Linked DNA regions of Homo sapiens: region 2 is linked to region 1. Evidence: fine-mapped expression QTL. Tissue or cell type: blood mononuclear cells. Region 1 holds a variant in brackets; the other region holds the start of a gene. All regions are shown on one strand. Distances are from middle to middle.

The links. PIP is the estimated chance that this variant, and not a neighbour inherited with it, causes the effect.
Region 2: RPS6KA4 starts here. The variant in region 1 is fine-mapped to the expression of RPS6KA4 in blood mononuclear cells (TOPMed, PIP 0.92).

What each region holds. Positions count from the first base shown.
Region 1 is chr11:64,386,090-64,396,105 of GRCh38, forward strand. LOC124902688 (a long non-coding RNA gene) reads left to right here and starts at 1,018. Exons shown (of 2, transcript XR_007062718.1): 1 at 1,018-1,276; 2 at 4,037-4,224. It overlaps LINC02723 (long intergenic non-protein coding RNA 2723), which reads right to left and starts at 9,742. Exons shown (of 2, transcript XR_007062719.1): 1 at 9,116-9,742; 2 at 8,253-8,875. The variant C/T (reference allele first, on the strand shown) is at 5,122.
Region 2 is chr11:64,355,633-64,361,664 of GRCh38, forward strand. It overlaps RPS6KA4 (ribosomal protein S6 kinase A4), which reads left to right and starts at 3,530. Exons shown (of 17, transcript NM_003942.3): 1 at 3,530-3,658; 2 at 3,746-3,817; 3 at 4,531-4,749; 4 at 4,845-4,960; 5 at 5,502-5,609; 6 at 5,837-5,917; 7 at 6,010-6,032. The coding sequence starts at 3,604. It overlaps CCDC88B (coiled-coil domain containing 88B), which reads left to right. Exons shown (of 27, transcript NM_032251.6): 27 at 1,407-1,902. The coding sequence ends at 1,462. RefSeq lists a silencer at 3,316-3,805 and enhancers at 3,555-4,082, 4,816-4,925.

The DNA of each region.
Region 1 (10,016 bases):
ATTGGCCCTAGAGCCTGGGCCTCCCTACTTGAGAACTAAGCCCTTAACCACAGTGGTTGAGCGGTTATGCTGCCTCTCAAGGTTATCTCCTGCCTAAGAGATATTTCTTTCTAGCAGATGTGTGGTGGTTCGCTTTCCTCTGCAATCCGTTTTAGCTCTCTTTGCCCCAAGGATCTGGTTCTCGCTCCGACTCTGCAGAGCCTAGAGCTCCATAGACGCCAGCCCCGGGCTCTCTTTGCTGGAGGTGGCATGGCAGCTCCATTTGCTGTCTTTGTGAAATAAATCATGTCAGTCATGTGACAGCGCACTGTCCCTCATCATAGCCTAGCTTTCCATTCTGATCCACAACTTGGTACCTCAATGTGAAGACTGTGGTCTGGAATGACAAGATTCCAGAATACAGCCATGAGTCACTTAGCCATGGGGACACGTTCTGAGAAATGCATTGTTAGGTGATTTCATCACTGTGTGAACATCAGAGTGCACTTACACAAACCTGGATGGGTAGCCCGCAACACAGCTAGGCTAGATGGTACAGCTGATTGCTCCCACACCACAAGCCTGTATGGCAGGAAGTGCTGAGTAGCAGAGGCAATTGGAATAGAATGGTATTTGCGTATCTAAATGTATCTAATCATAGAAAAGGTGGCACATTGCACTATGATGATATGATGGCTATGAATGACATCACTAGATGAGAAAAATTTTTCAGCTCCCTTATAATCTTTTATTTTTGTTATTTTTCTTTTCTTTCTTTCTTTCTTTCTTTCCCTCCCTCCCTCCCTCCCTCCCTCCCTCCCTCCCTCCCTCCCTTCCTTCCTTCCTTCCTTCCTTCCTTCCTTTCTTTCAAAAAATAAAAGCATACAGACAACCTCTTGCTATGTTGCCCAGGCTGTAGTCAAACTCCTCGCTTCAAGCAATCCTCCTGCTTTGGCCTCCCAAGTCCCAACCATGTTAGCCAGGCTGGTATCGAACTCCTGGCCTGAAGTGATCTGGCCACCTCAGCTTCCCAAAGTGCCAGGACTATAGGTGTGAGCCACCACACCCAGCCTCCATTATAATCCTATAGGACCACCATGGAATATATGGTCCCACACTGTCCAAAACATCATCATGCAGCCCATGAAATTAAACTGTTTCAAGGAGAAAAGCAAAGAACACAAATGAAAGATGGGTGAGGAGGAATCAATTGTGTGAACACTCAAGAGATGAAGACGCTGAGGTCCCAGTAGACCACCGGCTGTCAGCAGCGGAATATGATAGCAGATTTGTTAAGGTAAGCACCACAAAACAGTGCTGCATCCCAGGTGTAGAATGGGCTGAGAACATCTGACACTTTGCCTCCTCTTTTTTGATGTCATAATCACTGTTGTATTATTCTCCACAAGCATCCAGGAGGGAGATTAGTTTGGGCCCCTATCCTCTTAGTTTTATTAGCTCTGTAGAAAGTATGGCTGGCCAGGTGCAGTGGCTTATGCCTGTAATCCTGGCATTTTGGGAGGCCAAGGTGGGCGGATCGCTTGAGGCCAGGTGTTCCATACCAGCCTGGTTAACATGTGTAATCCTGTCTCTACCAAAAATACAAAAATTAGCCAGGCATAGTGGTGCATGCCTGTAATCCCAGCTACTCTGGAGGCTGAGGCAGGAGAATCACTTGAACTTGGGAGGTGGAGGTTGCAATGAGCCGAGATCGTGCCACTGCACTCCAGCCTGGGCGGAAGAGCGAGACTCTGTCTCAAAAAAAAAAAAAAAAAAAAAAAAAGTATGGCCAAGGCTGGTATTTTCTATACTCCTGTCTTCCTTAGCTTCCTTAGCAACACAAAAGCTATAGTGTTGGGTGTCAATGGGCTTTTTATAATATCACATTTCCTAGCCTTTCAGAAATAGGCCTATAAGATGTAAGCAAAGGTTATTGAGTATGGTTTCTGGGAAAGCTCTCCAAAGGAGGCTAAGCTGAGAGGCATGTCCTTTTGCCTTGCCCCTTCCTACTCTCTGCTGCCTGAAATGTGGATGTGATGTCTGGAGCTGCAGTAGCCATTTTGGGATCATGAGGTAGCCCCAAGGATGGGAGCCTCATGTTAATGATGGCAGAGAGCAAGATAGAATGAGCCTGGGTCACTGATGGCTGTGGACCTGCTGTATCAACCCTGGGCTGGCTAACTCTAGACTTCTTTTCACATGAGAGCAAAATTTAACCTCTCCCTTATTATAGCCACTGTTATTTTGATTCTCTGTAGCTTGTAGCCAGGTGCAATTCTTAACCGATAGCAAAGCTTTTGAGCACACCTGATGCCTCACTTCCCATCTCTATTCATGAATAAAGGGAAGTTTGACATGGATATAGCAGGGTGTCCCTGAGGCATCTGTACTGGGAACAGAGCCTGCTTTTTGTGGGCCTGGGGGCCTTGTGTTGGCTTGGTCCTGTTTGCAGGAACGGGCATGCCCGCTGGTTTTATCTCTCAGAACTGGAGGAGGAGAATGAAGTCGTTTGGTGCAGAGGTGCCCTGGGAGGGGAAGGGGCAGCAAGAATGGTGGAGGTGGATGCTGCGAAGTGACGGCTGGGCTGGGGCCTGGGGATCTGTTTCTGGGAGTGGTAGCAAACTTCTGGGCTCAGGCAGTGTCCCTTCTGGCCTGGGTGACAAAGAACAGTGCAGCTATGGGACAGCACAAAGTCGTGTGTTTCTGCCCCAACCCTAGCCTAACCTTGACTCTCTAGGACTGGCAGCCTGGGAACACTGGAGGCCAGCAGAAGCAGGGGATGCAGAGAGGATGGGGCCAGGTGGAAGCCAGGTGTGGGCTTGGACCTGAGCATGTGGGAGACACTCAACATGCCCTGGAATCCCCAGGGGTGGCAGGTGCTGAGGTGGGCTGTGCTCTGTGGGTGTGCAGCCGGGCACTAAGAATCTTGGTAATTTAGCTGGAGAGCTTGTTTGTGCCCCGGGTAGCCGAGCTGGACATGCAGGTTGCAGAGGGAGTTGGAAGCTGATGGACTTAATGAACATCGTAAATCCCACGGCACTCCCGCATCGTGCCTCCCTGTTGCCTGGTGGAGACTTACCTCTTCAGAAAGCTGGTTTCAGCAATCGCTCCATAAACATCCTTGAAGTTCATGGCCCTCTTTGCTGTCTCGGAGCTCACGCTGCACTTTCTCAGTCTGTTCCATGTTTGCTGATTGAATCAGCAATTCAGCCATTTGGATTAAAAGGCATACACAATTTTTTTTTTTTGAAAGCAAAAACATCTTCTGTTGAAGCAGCTCTGCCTGACCTACCATTTGCCAAAGGAGATGTTCTCAGAAACGTGTTGTTGCCAATGCTCAGAATAAAGATCTGAAAGCCTGTAGCAAGGATCAGAAGCCTCATGGCCAACATCTCTGCATTTATAAAGCATGATTTCTCCTGTGAGTTTGGTGAGGAGATATTTTAACCCTCATTTTGCAGATGGAGAAGGTACGGGGAGGTCTTGCATGTGATGATGAGGCCAGTCATTGGTGGAGACTCCAGGTGTCTTTTTATGTCATCTCACCATCCCTTAGACTGTTAGCTTCAAGGGAAGATGGGCTCATTATTAGCCCAAATATTGACTTACATAGAATAAAAGTGGTAGCTGATATTTGAGCATGGACTCTGAGCCTGGCCCAGGACCAAGTGGCTTTGATCTGTGATTTTGTGTAGTGTGTGTAGCTTACCCAGCTCCTGTTCCTCCCACTTGTGCTTTCTGGTCCCTCCAAGCTTGCTCTAGGTCAGTTGCTGGAATGCACGGGATGCTGGGATAGATGCTCACCCATTTCTGCTGGTCACAGATGAGGAAGCACCTAGCCCTAATGGCAGCTGGCAGCCAGCCTGTCACCCCAAGGACACCATACCTCAGGGTCCAGCTGAGGCTATGGATGACAGAGGAGAGAGGGAAGAGGTCAAGTCCTGAGGACACAGCTGAGCTGCTGGATCGAACCAACCCTGAAGTCCACCCTACTGCTGAACTGTCCTTTAGCCAGGCTGCATCTCCATTTATCATTTTATTTCTTGGCACCTTCCAGAGCCAAGAGAGAGAATCTTCATGTCCAAGGGTCAGCATGCAGCTCATAGAGGGGCCGGAAATCACAGCTGTGTCTGTGCTACTTCTTCCCATCTTCAGGTGCCATGAGTGAATCAGGAAAAGATATTGGTACTGTATTAGTCTGTTCTCATACTGTTAATAAAGACATACCTGAGACTCTGTAATTTACAAAGGAAAAAGGTTTAATTGACTCACAGTTCCCAGAGCTGGGGAGGCCTCAGGAAACTTACAATAATGAGAGAAGGGAAAGCAAACACGTCCTTCTTCACAGGGCAGCAGGAGAGAGAAGAATGAGCAAAGATGGAAAGCCCCTTATAGAACCATCAAATCTCATGAGAACTCACTCACTATTATGAGAATAGCATGGGGGTAACCACCACCATGATTCAATTACCTCCCACCAGGTCCCTCCCACTACATGTGGGGATTATGGAAACTACAATTCAAGATGAGATTTGGGTGGGGACACAGCCAAAACATATCAGGGACTAAGGATACCAAGTCACGGGAGTCATCAGCTCAGTTCAATGGTGTGTCAATTAACAAAGTGTTCTGCAGTAAGAAATCACCCCATCTGGGTGATATGTGTAACTGGCAGAGGAAGTTGGCTCAGTGATGGGGAGCTTCTAAAGAAGCCTGGCCTGGCTGTGGTGTGGGATGTGGACACTGGCCCAACAGAGGGGCCTGTGGCTCCAGCAGAGGGGACATGCAGGTAGCCGATGGCCCAGAGCAGGGCTGTACTCCTTCCACCACACACCACCATTCTTCAGGTGCGGTGACAAGGCAGGGGAAGCTGCTGGGATCTCTTGGGACTTCCAAGGGGCTGAGGTTGTTCATTTACCAGACTTCAGTGGTTACTACAGAGGGCTGTCCTGTGGCCCACAGGGGGCAGGGCAAGAATGAGAGTGGACTTGGGGCCGGGTGTGGTGGCTCACACCTGTAATCCCAACATTTAGGGAGGCCGAGGCAGGTGGATGAATTGAGGTCAGGAGTTCGAGAGCAGCCTGGCCAACATGGTGAAACCCCATCTCTACTAAAAAAATACAAAGATTTAGTGGTGGCCCG[C/T]GCCTGTAGTCCCAGCTACTTGGGAGGCTGAGGCAGGAAAACCACATGAGCCCAGTGGGTGGAGGTTGCGGTGAGCTGCGATTGCACCACTGCACTCCAGCCTGGGGGGCAGAGCAAGACTCTGTCTCAAAAAAAAAAAAAAAAAAAAAAAAAAAGAAAAGAAAAGAAAACAAAAAGAGAGTGGACTTGGCCCAGAGGTGGGTGACGGTCAGTAGCCACCTGTGGAGCCTGGGGCTCTGTGCCACGGTGGCCTCTCTGGAGATAAGGTGGCGGGTGCCAAAGGGAGGGACCCTCAGGGAGGAGGCAGTGACTTGGCCAGTTCACACTCCAAGTCTGTATTTTGGCTCAGCTGGCCCAGAAGTTCCTTGGCACCCCTTTCCCCAGAGGGAGACGTGTGCAATGTGTGCAGAGCCCCGCAAGGGGAGGACAGGTTGGCTCCCCACTGCCCCCAGCAGAGGGTGGGAGTGAGACTTAAGAGATGGGACCTCAGTTTCTCAGTGGCAGGTAGTGGGGTGCTGCCCACAGCAGCATTTGCAAGCTATGTTCCTTGGAGCTCAAGGAGGTTGGAAGTTTATGATAGATGCTCAGCAAAAATGTTGTCATCAGCCGTGTACTGTGCTGCCTCTTGGAAAGTCATCAAGGGCCTCAGCGCATTAAATGCTCTGAGGAGTCCTGCATTGTTATATGTGTTTAATTCAAGGCTCCCCATGGCACACCCAGCAATGCCTGTGGAGCACTGGGGTTCCCTGGAATGTAGTTTGGAAACTGTTCTGGATCTGGCTTGCTCTGAGCCTGGACATTGTCTTGGGAACAGGCCAGGCTTGTCATGGCAGGTGGTTTATGAACAGAAAGCTGCCTCATTAATTTGCAGGGAGGTCATCTTCCCTTGCACCCATCATCCCAGATCACTCAGCTCTGGGCAGGCCCCTTGCTCTCTCCCCACAAGCCAGGGAGCTCAGCCTGTTTTTTTTTTTTTTTTCCTTGAGACGGAGTCTCGTTCTATTGCCCAGGCTCTGGAGAGTGCAGTGCTGTGATCTCCCCTCACTGCAACCTCCGCCTCCCAGGTTCAAGCGATTCTCCTGCCTCAGCCTCCCAAATAGCTGGGATTACAGGCACCTGCTACCACGCCCAGCTAATTTTTGTATTTTTAGTAGAGACGGGGTTTCTCCATGTTGGTCAGGCTGGTCTTGAACTCCCGACCTCAGGTGATCTGCCTGCCTCGGCCTCCCAAAGTGCTGGGATTACAGGCATGAGCCACCGCGCCCGGCCACTCAGCCTGTCCTTCTAAGGCAGTTGCTACAGCTTTGTCTTTTAGGGTTTTTTTCTAGGAGGGAGAATGGTCCCAGGACTCCCTCCTGTGTGACTCTTGCAGGTCACTGCATGCTGGGAAGGGGAGGAGGGTCCTGATCTCAGGTAGATCTAGGACATTCCATTCCCGGGCTGGTTCCTGATTTCCCTTCTGGGGTTGTTCCCCAGGCCTCTGTAGCGGGGGGCCCTGTTGGGGCTGGGGGAGCTCAATCTCTGCAGCGGACTTTGGGTCAATCCTTTCCTGGTTCTGTTTCTGTTTCCAAAGAGCCATGCATTCACTCACAACGAGAACTTTCTCTACATGTAAGGCTGGAGCTGGGCCCAGGGATAGAGAAGTGGACAAGATGAAGCTTTGTCCCTGCCCTCAGTGGGTGCTCATGTGGTGTGGGGACAAAGACCTTAGCTGATGAGGCCGCGAGGGAGGTGGTTCCAGGGAGCACATGAGAGGGAGGCACTTAACTTTATCCATGGGGGCTGGAAGGGATTCAGGAGGTACCAGGAAGGCTGGAGAACCACAGAAACAGGGTGCAGCTCCCAGAACCCGAGGCAAAGTCAGGCCACGGGAGCGATCGGCCGCTGCCACCATTGAACACTGGGTGCCACGCCTGGCCCCACTGCAGCCTCTGGCTCTGTGCCCCAAAAGCCACCTACTGTCCCTGAAGTTGGACACTGTGGCCAGAATGGACGGACTTGACACTGTCCCTAATTCTTTTTTTTTTTTTTTTTTTTGAGACAGAGTCTCTCTCTGCCGCCCAGGCTGGAGCGCAGTGGCCTGATCTCGGCTCACTGCAACCTCCACCTCCTGGGTTCAAGTCATTCTCCTGCCTCAGCCTCCCCAGTAGTTGGGATTACAGGCATGCGCCATCACGCCTGGCTAATTTTTATATTTTTAGTAGAGATGGGGTTTCACCGTGTTGGTCAGGCTGTTCTCGAACTCCTGACCTCAGGTGATCCACCTGCCTTGGCCTCCCAAAGTGCTGGGATTACAGGCATGAGCCACCGCGTCTGGCCTCTCTCTTTTTTTTAGAGACAGGGTCTTGCTCTGTTGCCCAGGCTGGAGTGCAGTGACACAGTCTTGGCTCACTGCAACCTCTGCCTCCAGGGTTCAAGTGATTCTTTTGCTTCGGCCTTCTGAGTAGTTGTGCCTGGCTGTGCCCAGCCAGGATAAATTTTTATTTAAGTCCTTTGCACACTTTCTTTCTTTTTTTTTTTTTTTTTATGGAGCTTCGCTCTTTAGCCCAGGCTGGAGTGAAGTGGCATGATCTCGGCTCATGGCAACCTCCCCCCACTGGGTTCAGGAGATTCTCCTGCCTCAGCCTCCCAAGTAATTGGGATTACAGGCGCCTGCCACCACACACAGCTAATTTTTTTGTATTTTTAGTAGAGACAGGGTTTTGTCATGTTGGCCAGGCTTGTCTCAAACTGCTGACCTCAGGTGATCCTCTCGCTTCAGCCTCCCAAAGTGCTAGGATTACAGGTGTGAGCTACCACGCCTAGCTCCCTTTGCACACTTTCTAACTGGATTTTTGTGTTGTCGTTGAGTTGCAGGAGTTATTTCTATATTCTGGATATTAATCTCTTATAAGATACATGATTTGCAAATATTTCTTCCAATTCTGTAGGTTGCCTTGGGCTGTACTTTTAAATTGTTGAATTCTTTGTAATTTTTTGTTGTTGTTTTTTAAAGAGACTAGGTCTCGCTGTGTCACCTAGGAGGGAGTGCTGTGAAGCAATCAGCTCACTGCAGCCTTGAACTCCAGGCTCAGGAGTTCCTCAGCCTCAGCCGCCTAAGTAGCTAGGACTACAGGTGCATGACACTATGCTCGGCTATTTTTTTTATTAAAATTTTTATTTTTATTTTTTGTAGAGATGGGGGTCTCGCTATGTTGCCCAAGCTAGTCTCAAAGTCCTGGCCTCAAGTGATCCTCTTGCCTCAGCCTCCAGGATGTTGGGATTACAGGTGTGTGCCACCGCACCTGGCCCTCGTCAGTTTTTGGAAGATGACAGCACAACATGTCAATAACCATAGTGGCCGGCGATCTTGTATCTTTCTTGCTAACAGAAGTCTGGTTTCGTGTGGGGAGGCAGCATGCTCAGCCTGGGTCCTGACAATAGGATTTCCATCTGATACTCCACCTTCCCAGTCTCTGTTGCAACTGGGGGTGGCCGTGTGATGCGGTTCTAGCCAAAGAGATGTGAAGAAATGTGAGGAGGAGGGGGTGCTTCTGGGAAACACTTTACTTCTTGATGAGAGGAACACTCCTTTCTTCCCAATAAAAGGCCAATAAAAGTGGACTTGGCTCCCGGATAACATCTCTGAACTATTTCCCCAAACCCAGAATAGCCCATACCCACGCTGCTGCCTCTTATTGCTTCAGCCTCTGATATGTAGATTTTCTATTCATTGCATCCAGAGACATTCCTAACGGCTACAGCTGTGTGACACCTAGGAAGAAAATTCATTTCTTATTCCATTTCCTATCTTAAATTAGGTCAAACGACACTGTGTAATATAACTCCCAGTGGGGTTTGAACATTGAGAACCACATCAAAACCTGCAACATAAGACAGCTGCAAGGTAAACAGGAGCCCCCATGATTGAAGTCCAAAAATGCAATACCTTTCTCCCTCTAAGGCAAAGCCCAGATGAATTCAAGTCAAGACCCCTTCCTCTGCAGTGTCTTACCATGCTCGGCCTTAGGTGGAGGGCCCCACTTGGCTGAAGTGTGGCTTCCCTTGGTGGCAGTTGCAGTCCAGATGGCTCTTCTCCACTTTTGGAGTGAACTTGATACAGTCCTGGAGTGCAGTGGCGTGATCTTGGCTCACTGCAACCTCTGTCTCCAGGGTTCAAGCAATTCCCGTGCCTCAGCCTCCCGGATAGCTGGAACTACAGGCATGCACCACCATGCCTGGCTAATTTTTGTATTTTTAGTAGAGATGGGGTTTCACAATGTTGGCCAGGCCGGTCTCGAACTCCTGACCTCAAGTCAAGAGATCTGCCCACCTTGGCTTCCCAAAGTGCTGGGATTATAGGCGTGAGCCACTATGCCCGGCCACAGTCTATGTTTCTAACCTGGACTGACTTTTCCAAAGAGCCAGTTCCTGGCACATATGAGATGTTCCTAGCACACTCCACACCCACAAAGTATAAACATCAGACAGACAAAAGCAGCACCTCCATCATCACAGCAGCAAACCCAGCAACGCATGGTCCAGAGTCCAGTCCAGAGCCCACTGCGGTGGGCAGCCAGAGGCCTAGAGGAGCTGGCTTAGCTGGAGCAAAGATGCAGGCACAACGCACCGGCGACAAGAGGAATGATGTTGCACTTCACCAGGAGACGAGAGTCCACGACCCAGGAATTGAAACTCCACTGGTGGAAATTGCCCAATGAGAGGCAAACTGTGTCCCCTGCCGTCCGTATCCACCCAGGCTCACAGCTTCCTCTGAGAGCAGCGGGGGGACAGTTGTCTTCTTGGGTCACTTAACATTTGCAGTGAAGTCATTCCTGGAGCCCTTACCTAGGGCTCCCCGCCCCTCCCCCACCTTGTGCTCATCCTGCTTATTCAAAGGCTCTTAATTTTGATGA
Region 2 (6,032 bases), 32 kb before region 1:
GTGGGGGACTGTGGAAGGAGTAGTATTCTTTGTCCTGCCTGGGGCCCCTGGCAGAACCTCATTCATCCATTCTTTCATTCGACAATGATCCTTTACCAAGTGCCAGGTGACGTGCTGGCAGGGGACACAGCAGGGAACGTTCTGGTGTGAGGAGGCAGATAGTAAACAATTTGCCTAAAAATAATTATTATCTACAACAGCCCTGTCCACTAGAAATATGGTGTGAACCACATGATAATTTTAACTTTTCCAGTAGGCTTACCAGAAAAAGTGAAAAGAGACAGGTACAATGGATTTTAATAACATTTAACTCAATATGCCTACGCTATTACCATTTCAGCATGTAGCCAGTGTAAAAATCATGAATGAGCTATTAGACGTGATGTTTTTTTTTTTTTTTTGAGATGGAATTTCACTCTTTGGCTCACTGCAACCTCCTCCTCCCAGGTTCAAACGATTCTCCTGGCTCAGCCTCCCAAGTAGCTGGGATTACAGGCATGGGCCACCACGCCAGGCTAATTTTGTATAATTATTATTATTTTTTTTAGTAGAGACGGGGTTTCACCATGTTGGTCAGGCTGGTCTCGAACTCCTGACCTCAGGTGATCCGCCCGCTTCAGCCTCCCAAAGTGCTGGGATTATAGGTGTGAGCCACCCAGCCAGACGTGATTTTTTTCATAGTAAGTCTTTGGCAGTTTCGGAGGCCAAGGCAGGCAGATCACTTGAGGCCAGAAGTTAGAGACCAGCCTAGCCAAAATGGTGAAATCCCGTCTCTACTAAAACTACAAAAATTAGCCAGGCATGGTGTCCCATGCCTGTAATCCCACCTACTCAGGGGGCTGAGGCAGGAGAATCGCTTGAACCTGGGAGGCAGAGGGTGCAGTGAGCCAAGATCACGCCATTGCACTCCAGCGTTGGTGACAGAGTGAGACTGTCTCAAAAACAAAAAACAAAAAACAAAAAAACATAGTAGGTCTTTGAAGCACGTCACAGGCCAACCCCATCTCACCTACTTAGCTCCGCCCTGGGCAGCTCAGCCCTAGACCCGGCTGGACCATCAGGAGGCGCTAATGCTCTGGGAAGAAAGGAGAGCAGGGGAGGGGTCAGGAGCTCAGGAGCTCTGGGCAGGCTGGTTGGAGTTTTAGTAACTGGGGTGCTGGGGTGGGCCTCAGAGAGGATGTGAAATTGGAGCAAAGACTTGGAGGGGAGAGTTTGTCGTGTGGACATACCTGAGAACAGCATTCTGGGCAGAGGGAACCGCTGAGGGAACAGCAGGCGTGGTGCAGCTGGAAGCGGGGGGTATTGGCAGGTCGGGGGTGGGCAGAAGGTGCTCGAGCCTGTGGGCCTCCTGGGACTCTGGGAGTCCTCCTGAGGGAAGCAGATCTCAGCTGAGCCTTTCCCTCTAGGCCCTGAGGTACAGGAACCGGAGAAACGTCCCCTCACCCCATCCCTCAGCCAGTGACACCGTGGGAACAGCAGGCTTGGGAGTGCAGCCTTCTCGGCACTGGAGTGTCAGCGGAGGCCCCAGGCAGCCCAAGAGCTCAGGGAGCCAGGGACCCCAAGGGGAGTCCTTGGACAAGGAGGCCTGGGCCCTGAGATCCTCCACGGTCAGCGCCGGGGCCCGGAGATGGAGCTGGGACGAGTGTGTGGACAGGGGGGATGGCTGGCCCCCACGAGCAGCTCCAGGCTGGAGTTCTGGTTCTTCCAGGTGGCTCCCGCTGAGGCAGCGGTCTCTGGGGGATCCCCCAGCTGAAGGAGGCTGGCAGGAGTTGGCAAGAGAACCCCCTGCCCTGTCCAGGTGGGAAGCTGAGTCCCAGTGCTGGGGGACTGTGGCCTGGGCTGATCTTGAGCCTTAACTGGACATGAGGGGCATGAGAATAAAGCTGAACTGCAGCCTCCTGAGTCTTGCTCTGTCTGTTGGCCGCACTGGGTACCTCAGGGCACCAGGACACATGCCGCCCCAGTCCTGCTGGTTGGTGGGGGTCTGTGGGCAGAGGGCCCCTGCCTGGACAGGGCAGCACAGGCCTTTCTCCAGGGTCTTGGCCAGTCCGGCCGGCCAAAGCCCGGATGTCCTGGTGAGGTGGAGAGGGGATGACATCCTGGGTAGCCAGCAGGGATTGGGGTCTAAGATCTGGGCTCAGGGGTGTGGGGCAGTGAAGCCCCTGTTGCCCCGCCCCCACCCTCTCCCAGGGCACTGTCTTCTCTCTGTTCACATCCTCCTCCTACTCATCTCCCCTCCCTCCTTGAGGTTGAGCCCCCTCCCCAGGGAGTTCTCAGCCTGGCGGGGCATCACTTAATGCCAGGGGTTGCCAGGAGAGGTGGGAGGGACGCTGGCTCTCTGACCAGGGCCTCTAGCCTGATGCCTGAGAGGCGGGGCAATTCGGCTGGGGTGCAGGATGTGAGTCAGGGTACCTGGGGCCACCCAGGGGAGGGTGGAGCTGCCCAGGGCTGAGATAAGGCAGCCTGAACTTGGGGGGTGCAGAGCTGGGAGGGACGGTCCGTCCGGCCTCCCAGGTGTGACCTGCAGCAGCTTGAGTTCCTCCTCCTCTCAGCCAGGGCTTCACAGGACAGGGGCGTGGGGTGGACACCCTGGCCTCTCCAGCTGGCAGAGGAGCTGAGAGCCCCTCCCACCGGCCTCAGGGTGTGGGGCCTCATGGCTGTCCCACTCTGCTAGGTGGCCCCATTGGTGGTCAGGAAGGGAAAGGCAGGAAGAAGACGGAGCAGGGGCTCAGGAGGACCAGTCAGCAGGGGCCCTGGGCCTCATGGGGAGAGGGGGCAGCCCCGTGTGGCACTGACATCTCTTCTTGAGGCCTGCTCAGGGCTCTAAGCTGGGTACTGCACCAGGCTAGGAGACAACAGGAGCAGAACACGTGAGGTGCGCATGGCACCTGGTGGGCTCTGCACGGTGACTGGGGGCTGAAGTGCTTCTGCAGGCACCCCCGACAGAAAGCTGGTCAGAAAACTGGCCACTCCTCTCCTTGCCATGGGGTCCCAGGCCGGGCTCCAGCCCCCTCTTGGTGATGAGGCTCCTCCTTGCAAAGGCCAGTCCTCTGGGGAGAGGGGCCCTGCTGGCCACCCCCAGGACGATGGAGTGGGGTGGGCTCCACTGCCTGAGAGTTGGGTGACTTCCAGGATCCAGACCCCCTCTCAGCCTGCCCAGCACCAGGCACCTCGTCCCCCACCTTGGGGCACAGACTCCTAATGTCCTCCAGCCACTGGCTGCAGCCGGCATTCCCGGGCAGATTCCTGGCTTGGGGACTAATGCCCCAGAGGCTCCAGGTTACCCACGGGCTCAGGGATGGCTCCCACGGGGTGTTTCCAGTTCCCGGGAGAGTCGAGTAAGGTCCCGGAGCGCACGGCCCTGAGGCCTGGCCTGGGGGCTCGGGAGACAGGGCGGCCCCAGCCGGCCGCCCACCGGCAGCCCGGCGCTGTCACGTTCCAGCCGCCTGACTCAGGCCGCGCAGGGCGGGGAGCCGGGAGGCGGTGCCGGCGCCCGCCTCGGCCCCGGAGGCGGCACCAGGAAGCGCCCGCCCCGGCCGGAGCCGCCATGTAACCGGCGCCGCCCGGAGCCCGAGCCGCGCGGGCCCCAGCGACCCGCCCGCCATGGGGGACGAGGACGACGATGAGAGCTGCGCCGTGGAGCTGCGGATCACAGAAGGTGGGTGTGGGGCCTGACTGCGGCTGCCCGGGGCAGGCCGGGACGGGTCATGGACCGGCTGGGCTCATTCGCCCCCTGTGCCCACAGCCAACCTGACCGGGCACGAGGAGAAGGTGAGCGTGGAGAACTTCGAGCTGCTCAAGGTGCTGGGCACGGGAGGTGAGGACCCCCATCCACCGGGCAGGCGTCCCAGGCGCGGTGCCCCTGACCTCCTGCCTGCTCACTCTTGGGCCTGGGCCAGGCCACTGAGCAGGCCCCCCACCCTTTCCCGGCACAGCCTGCCTTGCCTGCCCCGCCCTGCCTCGCCAGAGTTTGCATGCCCACTTCCAGGGCACTCCACATTGACATCACTCCTCCCTCCACGGTCCTGTGCGTGCATACCCCCCTGGATTTGCCAACACCCTGGGGAGGGGGACTGGCGCCCCTCTCAAGTGATTTGCATAGCTCCTCCCTTTCTTCCAATATGGGATCCCCCTCCCACATTTTGCAAATGCCCCAGCGCTGGTTTGCGCATCCCTTCCCCAGCCAGGTGCACACCTCTGCCTCCCTTCCTTGCACTGGCATCTTTTCACATCCATCTGATCTCTCGCAGGTTTGCATATGCCCCGCCCCCATGCCTCGCAGCAGGCCCCCTGGAGATGCATGCTCCCCAGCCTGGTTTGCACATCCTTTCCCTGGTTTTGCTGGGCACCCTCCCGGGGTGTGCACACCCTTTCCTTAGAAGGCTCTGCCAGCTTTTTGCACACCTGCCTGTTGCCCCAGCTCCTTCGCCTCATTTGCACACCCTCCTGGGTTGGCATCGCCCCCACCCCCCAAGCCTGCACCAATCTCCCGCTCACAGCCCACCCTCCACCCACTCGCTGCTCCCACAGCCTACGGCAAGGTGTTCCTGGTGCGGAAGGCGGGCGGGCACGACGCGGGGAAGCTGTACGCCATGAAGGTGCTGCGCAAGGCGGCGCTGGTGCAGCGCGCCAAGACGCAAGAGCACACGCGCACCGAGCGCTCGGTGCTGGAGCTGGTGCGCCAGGCGCCCTTCCTGGTCACGCTGCACTACGCTTTCCAGACGGATGCCAAGCTGCACCTCATCCTGGGTGAGCGCACACCACATCCCAACGGGGTTGGGGTGGCTGGGGGCAGGCGAGGCCACCTGACGGGGCTGCTTCCTGACTTCCACTGCACCTCCCAGACTATGTGAGCGGCGGGGAGATGTTCACCCACCTCTACCAGCGCCAGTACTTCAAGGAGGCTGAGGTGCGCGTGTATGGGGGTGAGATCGTGCTGGCCCTGGAACACCTGCACAAGGTGGGTGAAGACCTGGCCGCAGGCTGTTGCTATGGAAACTGGGTCTGTGCCTTGGAAGGAATCTGCACGCAGGGCAGCCTCAGGCTTCCCCCTGGGCTTCCTGGGGGGCCAGTGGTGAGCTGGGTGGGAATTGGAGCTGCTTCCCCTGGACCCCTTGCAGGAAGCCTCAACGTTGCCTGGTGGGGTCCCCTCCCCTGGCACCTCCTCGAAGGGGCTTTCCTCTTTCAGGGAACTCGGGGCTGCGTTCACAGAACTTCCTCAAATGGAAACCTCACGGCCTGGCTCCTAAGGCCTCCTTGAAATGGAGCTCTTCACACAGACTTTCCTCTCTCTGGGACCTTGGGGCCTGATCCACGGGGCCCTCCTTCTTTGTTTTATATCTTAAATGGCCTTTCTTATTCAGTGGCTCTGCCCTGGAGACCCCCTCTACAGGCAGATGACTTTCTCTGGGGGGTCTCCTTATCCTGAGCAGGGCCAGGAGCTGGAGGAGCTGGGGAGGGTTTCGGGGAGGAAGCCTCAGCACCCCTCTTGCTCCTACCAGCTCGGCATCATTTACCGAGACCTGAAACTGGAGAATGTGCTGCTGGACTCCGAGGGCCACATTGTCCTCACGGACTTCGGGCTGAGCAAGGAGTTCCTGACGGAGGAGGTGAGTGGAGGCCACCTCTGCCTGCAGTGCCCCATTCAATCCTTCTCCTTCCTGCCTCTTCCTGCTCTGGGCCTGCATTCTGGGGCTGCAGAAGTGAATAGCTCCAAGAAGTTTCCACAGCTCAGCTCTCCAACCTCACAAGTTGAGCGAGTCTTACTCTGGGCCTTGTGGGGCACTGGGGCACAGGAGAGGTTTCGACATCTAAGCAGGACCTCTTGCCCTCCCAGAAAGAGCGGACCTTCTCCTTCTGTGGCACCATCGAGTACATGGCCCCCGAAATCATCCGTAGCAAGACGGGGCATGGCAAGGTAGGTTGGCAGGGAAGTGGGGCTGGGGGAGGTGGAAAGGTGGGGTGTGAGGCAGGGGAGATGCAGGCCCTCACCCCGGCTCCACCCGGCAGGCTGTGGACTGGTGGAGCCTGGG